Linked DNA regions of Homo sapiens: region 1 is linked to region 2. Evidence: fine-mapped QTL for protein levels in blood plasma. A gene starts in region 2. The other region holds a variant in brackets. All regions are shown on one strand. Distances are between the middles of the regions. Region 1 overlaps CAPN2 (calpain 2). Region 2 holds the start of CAPN2 (calpain 2).

What was found. A credible set is the group of variants that fine-mapping cannot tell apart. PIP is the posterior inclusion probability: the model's chance that the variant is causal. Sun 2018 read protein levels with aptamers (SomaScan).
Region 1: its variant is the best candidate, but not a certain one, in a credible set for the plasma level of the CAPN2 protein (Sun 2018, PIP 0.54).

The regions. Positions count from the first base shown.
Region 1 is chr1:223,765,943-223,768,860 of GRCh38, forward strand. It overlaps CAPN2 (calpain 2), which reads left to right. Exons shown (of 21, transcript NM_001748.5): 16 at 425-489. Among named protein-coding and RNA genes, the nearest start is that of CAPN2, 55 kb to the left of the region's middle. The variant G/T (reference allele first, on the strand shown) is at 1,225.
Region 2 is chr1:223,710,773-223,713,690 of GRCh38, forward strand. CAPN2 (calpain 2) reads left to right here and starts at 1,767. Exons shown (of 21, transcript NM_001748.5): 1 at 1,767-2,105. The coding sequence starts at 1,869. RefSeq lists enhancers at 1,364-1,413, 1,453-2,404 and silencers at 1,514-1,903, 2,114-2,233.

The DNA.
Region 1 (2,918 bases), 55 kb after region 2:
GGACACAGTCCATAAATGTCTGCAGATGGACAGTTCAAGTAAACCTCTTTCTCTCACGGGTCATAGCCTAGAATTAACACACCTGCTCTCTGTTTTCTTTTTCCCTGCCCAACAACTACAGGTGACTTTATATCCTGTGGGCACCTAAGGCCCAACCATTGATCATTCTGTTATTTATTTGTTCAAAAAGCACTTTTTAAAGCCCTGTTTGCCCACGGCAAATATACAGAGACATCAGGACAATGTGGACATCATCTGCACTGTCCCAGTCTGGTAGTCACTAGCCACATGTGGCTATTTAATATAATGGAAGTGGCTTCTGTATGTGAAGGGCACAGATAAAGAATATCTCCATGATTGTGGAAAGTTCAGTTGGACATCACCGCTCAGAGATTTTTCCTGTCACACTGATTTTGTCTTTTAGGCCAAGATATCAAGTCAGATGGCTTCAGCATCGAGACATGCAAAATTATGGTTGACATGCTAGATGTATCCTTTAATGTGCTCCAGGGAATAGAGACTGGGGGAGTTTAAAATCTCACTCCAGAAAGATTCAAACACATGGCCTTCTCCCTTTTCAAAATAGCCAGTTGTTCCCAACTTGCTGAGTTGCTGTCGGACAGTCAGCAGCGCTGACCTCCCTTACTAGGGAAATGCGAGAACCCTCTGATGAGGGAAAGCAAATGCTACACCCCCCCTCCCACCTACCCTGAAAGGCTTAGAATGCAGGCCCATGGCGGGCGGTGGCTCATGCCTGTAATCCCAGCACTTTGGAAGGCCAAGGTGGGCCTCCTGACTCACGAGGTCAGGAGTTCGAGACCAGCCTGACCAACATGGTGAAACCTTGTCTCTACTAAAAATACAAAAATTAGCTGGGTGTGGTGGCGGGCACCTGTAATCCCAGCTACTCAGGAGGCTGAGGCAGGAGAATCACTTGAACCTGGGAGGCGGAGGTTGCAGTGAGCTGAGATCGCGCCACTGCACTCCAGCCTGGGTGACAGAGCGTGACTCATCGCCAAAAAAAAAAAAAGAAAAAGAATGTAGGCCCACCAGTCCATTCCTGGGGCTGGTGCGGGAAATTCCTGACAATATGCCCATCACTTCTTTGCACAAAGCAGCTCGAATTTGTTTCCTCAGTGATGTGTTTCCATTACTTCCTCTAGGAAAATATTCCCTAACCACAGTATTTCTGATGTGAATCTGTTTTGTCTGATCAAGATCGTC[G/T]TCTTCTTTATTTATTTATTTATTTATTTTTTATTATTATACTTTAAGTTTTAGGGTACATGTGCACAATGTGCAGGTTAGTTACATATGTATACATGTGCCATGCTGGTGCTTTGCACCCACTAACTCGTCATCTAGCATTAGGTATATCTCCCAATGCCATCCCTCCCCCCTCCCCCCACCCCACAACAGTCCCCAGAGTGTGATGTTCCCCTTCCTGTGTCCATGTGTTCTCATTGTTCAATTCCCACCTATGAGTGAGAATATGCGGTGTTTGGTTTTTTGTTCTTGCGATAGTTTACTGAGAATGATGATTTCCAATTTCATCCATGTCCCTACAAAGGACATGAACTCATCATTTTTTATGGCTGCATAGTATTCCATGGTGTATATGAGCCACATTTTCTTAATCCAGTCTATCGTTGTTGGACATTTGGGTTGGTTCCAAGTCTTTGCTATTGTGAATAATGCCGCAATAAACATACGTGTGCATGTGTCTTTATAGCAGCATGATTTATAGTCCTTTGGGTATATACCCAGTAATGGGATGGCTGGGTCAAATGATATTTCTAGTTCTAGATCCCTGAGGAATCGCCACACTGACTTCCACAATGGTTGAACTAGTTTACAGTCCCACCAACAGTGTAAAAGTGTTCCTATTTCTCCACATCCTCTCCAGCACCTGTTGTTTCCTGACTTTTTAATGATTGCCATTCTAACTGGTGTGAGATGGTATCTCATTATGGTTTTGATTTGCATTTCTCTGATGGCCAGTGATGGTGAGCATTTTTTCATGTGTTTTTTGGCTGCATAAATGTCTTCTTTTGAGAAGTGTCTGTTCATGTCCTTTGCCCACTTTTTGATGGGGTTGTTTGTTTTTTTCTTGTAAATTTGTTGGAGTTCATTGTAGATTCTGGATATTAGCCCTTTGTCAGATAAGCAGGTTGCGAAAATTTTCTCCCATTTTGTAGGTTGCCTGTTCACTCTGATGGTAGTTTCTTTTGCTGTGCAGAAGCTCTTTAGTTTAATTAGATCCCATTTGTCAATTTTGGCTTTTGTTGCCATTGCTTTTGGTGTTTTAGACATGAAGTCCTTGCCCATGCCTATGTCCTGAATGGTAATGCCTAGGTTTTCTTCTAGGGTTTTGATGGTTTTAGGTCTAACGTTTAAGTCTTTAATCCATCTTGAATTGATTTTTGTATAAGGTGTAAGGAAGGGATCCAGTTTCAGCTTTCTACATATGGCTAGCCAGTTTTCCCAGCACCATTTATTAAATAGGGAATCCTTTCCCCATTGCTTGTTTTTCTCAGGTTTATCAAAGATCAGATAGTTGTAGATACGGCGTTATTTCTGAGGGCTCTGTTCTGTTCCATTGATCTATATCTGTTTTGGTACCAGTACCATGCTGTTTTGGTTACTGTAGCCTTGTAGTATAGTTTGAAGTCAGGTAGTGTGATGCCTCCAGCTTTGTTCTTTTGGCTCAGGATTGACTTGGCGATGCGGGCTCTTTTTTGGTTCCATATGAACTTTAAAGTAGTTTTTTCCAATTCTGTGAAGAAAGTCATTGGTAGCTTGATGGGGATGGCATTGAATCTGTAAATTACCTTGGGCAGTATGGCCATTTTCACAATATTGATTCTTCCTACCCATGAGCATGGAATGTTCTTCCATTTGTTTGTATCCTCTTTTATTTC
Region 2 (2,918 bases):
TGTTTAAATATTTACCTATATCCTGGAAGCCACCCCCACTACCCACCCACCACCCCCCGCCACTTTGAGTTGTCCCGCCTTTCTGAACCAAACCAATGTATTTCTTAAATGTACTTGACTGATGGCTCTTGCCTCCCTAACATGTATAAAACCAAGCTGCACCCCAACCACCTCGGGCACATGTCCTCAGGACTTCCTGTGTCACAGGTGTGCATCTTCAACCATGGCAAAAGAAACTTTCTAAATTAAATGAGACCTGTTTCAGATTTTCTGGGTTCACAAGAGCTATCTTGGACATTGGAAGATGTTCAGCGGCATCCCTGGCTTCTACTTAGTAAAGGCCAGTAGCACCTCATCTCCTAGCTGTGACCATAAAAACTATCTCCAGACATTCCCAAATGTCTCCTGGGGTGGGTAGGGGACAAAACTGCCCCCAGTTGAGAACCACTGCTGTAGACCATGCACAGTTTTCCAGTGAAACCCAAATTCTTCCCTACTACTGTAGAGAAGAAGAGGAGGTAATTTCTGCCCATCTGCATTTCTTGGCACGCACCCATGTCTCTGTGTGTGAGATGAGAATCACACCCTAGCTCCACAACAGAGTGGTCACAGTAGCCAACACAGGCAGTATTCTAAATGCTCTCTCCCTATAGTAACCCAACTAATCCTGCCAGTTAAATATGAGTTTCAGGTAAACAATGAATCATATTTTCTTTTAGAATAAGTATGTATGCCCATGCAATATTTGGGCCCTACATATACTTTAAAAGTATCTGTTGTTTATCTGAAATTCAAATTAAACATTTGGGAGGGTTGTTGTTTTATTGGCCAAATCATTTTATTTTATTTTATTTTTGATATGGAGTTTCGCTTTGTCACCCAGGCTGGAGCGCAGTGGCGCGATCTCGTCTCACTGCAACTTCTCCCTCCTGGGTTCAAGCGTTTCTCCTGTCTCAGCCTCCCGAGTAACTGAGATCACAGGTGCCTGCCACGACGTATTTTTAGTAGAGACGGAATTTCACCATGTTGACCAGGCTGGTCTCGAACTCCTGACCCCAGGTGATCCGCCTGCCTCCGGCCTCCCAAAGTGTTGGGATTACAGGTGTGAACTACCGCACCCAGCCTTATTGGCCAAATCTGACAACCCTATCTATAATCAAATAAACAGCTGAGCAGTAGTAATTGCAGCATTGTGATTGCAATAGGCCTCCGGTGGCTTAGAGTCCCTGTTCTGCCTGTGACTGTTGTGCCACATTGGGGACGTCATTTAGCGTCTCCGAGGCTCAGTTTTCTCATCTGTAAAATGGGGACAATATCAGCGCCTTCTTCAGAGTCGCTGGGAGGATTAAATGAGATGATGTATGCAGAGCCGTTAAGACGCTGTTTGGCACAAAGTTCAGGGCAGCTGGTTTAGTTTCCTCGACTTCACTACCTGACCCTCTGCTAACTCCCCGGGTGTTTTCCGGACGGCCACAACTATCCTAGCCTTCTTCCCTATGGGCTGCAAAGGTGGCCTCGGGTTCCGGTGGGAGCCCCAACTCTGGACCGCGATTCGCGAGCCTCCCCGGCGCCGGGCCGCGCCATCCCGGGAGCTGTCCGCAGATGGCAGCACCGGCCCCGGGTCGCGGCGTTCCCGGCGCTCGGCAGGCCGCAGGATGGCCTGGTCCCGGGCCGGGAGCCCAGCAGGCCGGGAGCGGCTGAGGCCACACCCCGCGGGCCGGGCCGCTTCCCTCCGGTGAATCATCGCTCGCAGCGGCGGCGCCCGCAGTGGCCGCAGCAGCGCGCCGGGCCCTGGCCGCGCCCCAGCCGAGCGCAGCGCGGAGTCGCCCCGACCTTTCTCTGCGCAGTACGGCCGCCGGGACCGCAGCATGGCGGGCATCGCGGCCAAGCTGGCGAAGGACCGGGAGGCGGCCGAGGGGCTGGGCTCCCACGACAGGGCCATCAAGTACCTCAACCAGGACTACGAGGCGCTGCGGAACGAGTGCCTGGAGGCCGGGACGCTCTTCCAGGACCCGTCCTTCCCGGCCATCCCCTCGGCCCTGGGCTTCAAGGAGTTGGGGCCCTACTCCAGCAAAACCCGGGGCATCGAGTGGAAGCGCCCCACGGTAGGAAGCGCGCGGCAGGACGCGGGCAGGGCGGGGTGCCGGGCAGGGCGGGGTGCAGGCCGGCCCGCGGCGCGCTGGGGCGGGGGGCAGCCCGGGTGCTGCAGTGGGGAAGCCGCAAGCCAGGACCTCGCAGTCCTGCGACACCTCCGCGCCGCCAGAGCCCGGGACTCTGTTCGAGCGTGGGGGGACTCCCGGGGCCTTCCCTCTCTTCCACCCACCACGCTTTCCTGGGCGGGTCGAGGCGAATCACTGCCCTCAGATCCCACTAGCAGGCCACTTTAGGACTTCACAAAAACTCAGGGTGATGCAGGAGGCCGGGGTGAAACTTTGATTGGACTCTAGCGGGGAGCTGGAAGGGAAGGGGAATCGGGTCTGCAGGGAAGGGACGGTGAGAGGCAGCATCTACCAGACAAAGTCCGTCTCCAACTGGGGTTCTGTCTGTTCATGGAGGGGGACAGGCCATAGCCTGGTCATTTTGTGACTAAGGATAGTCTCCTGCAGCCCTGGGGTTAGATTTATTTTTCCAAAGGGGAGCCAGCGATACCTCCTCATAACATTGACACTGGTAATTAACCCAGGACACGGAGGTGTCTCATGGTTTCCCTGGCGGGAATCACCCGGGAAACCTCCGGGAGCCCTCCAGACCCCCTTATCCCGTCCCCCAGGGTCTCTGACCTCCCGGCCCTGGGACAACTTGTGCTCCCCAATCTACTTGTCCATTCTGTTTCTTGGGGAACCCCTGAGGCTCCTCCTCCTTTGGGACACTTCCCCAGGCTTCCCCTACCACGCCTAGGAAAGCCTGCCCTGAAGTCC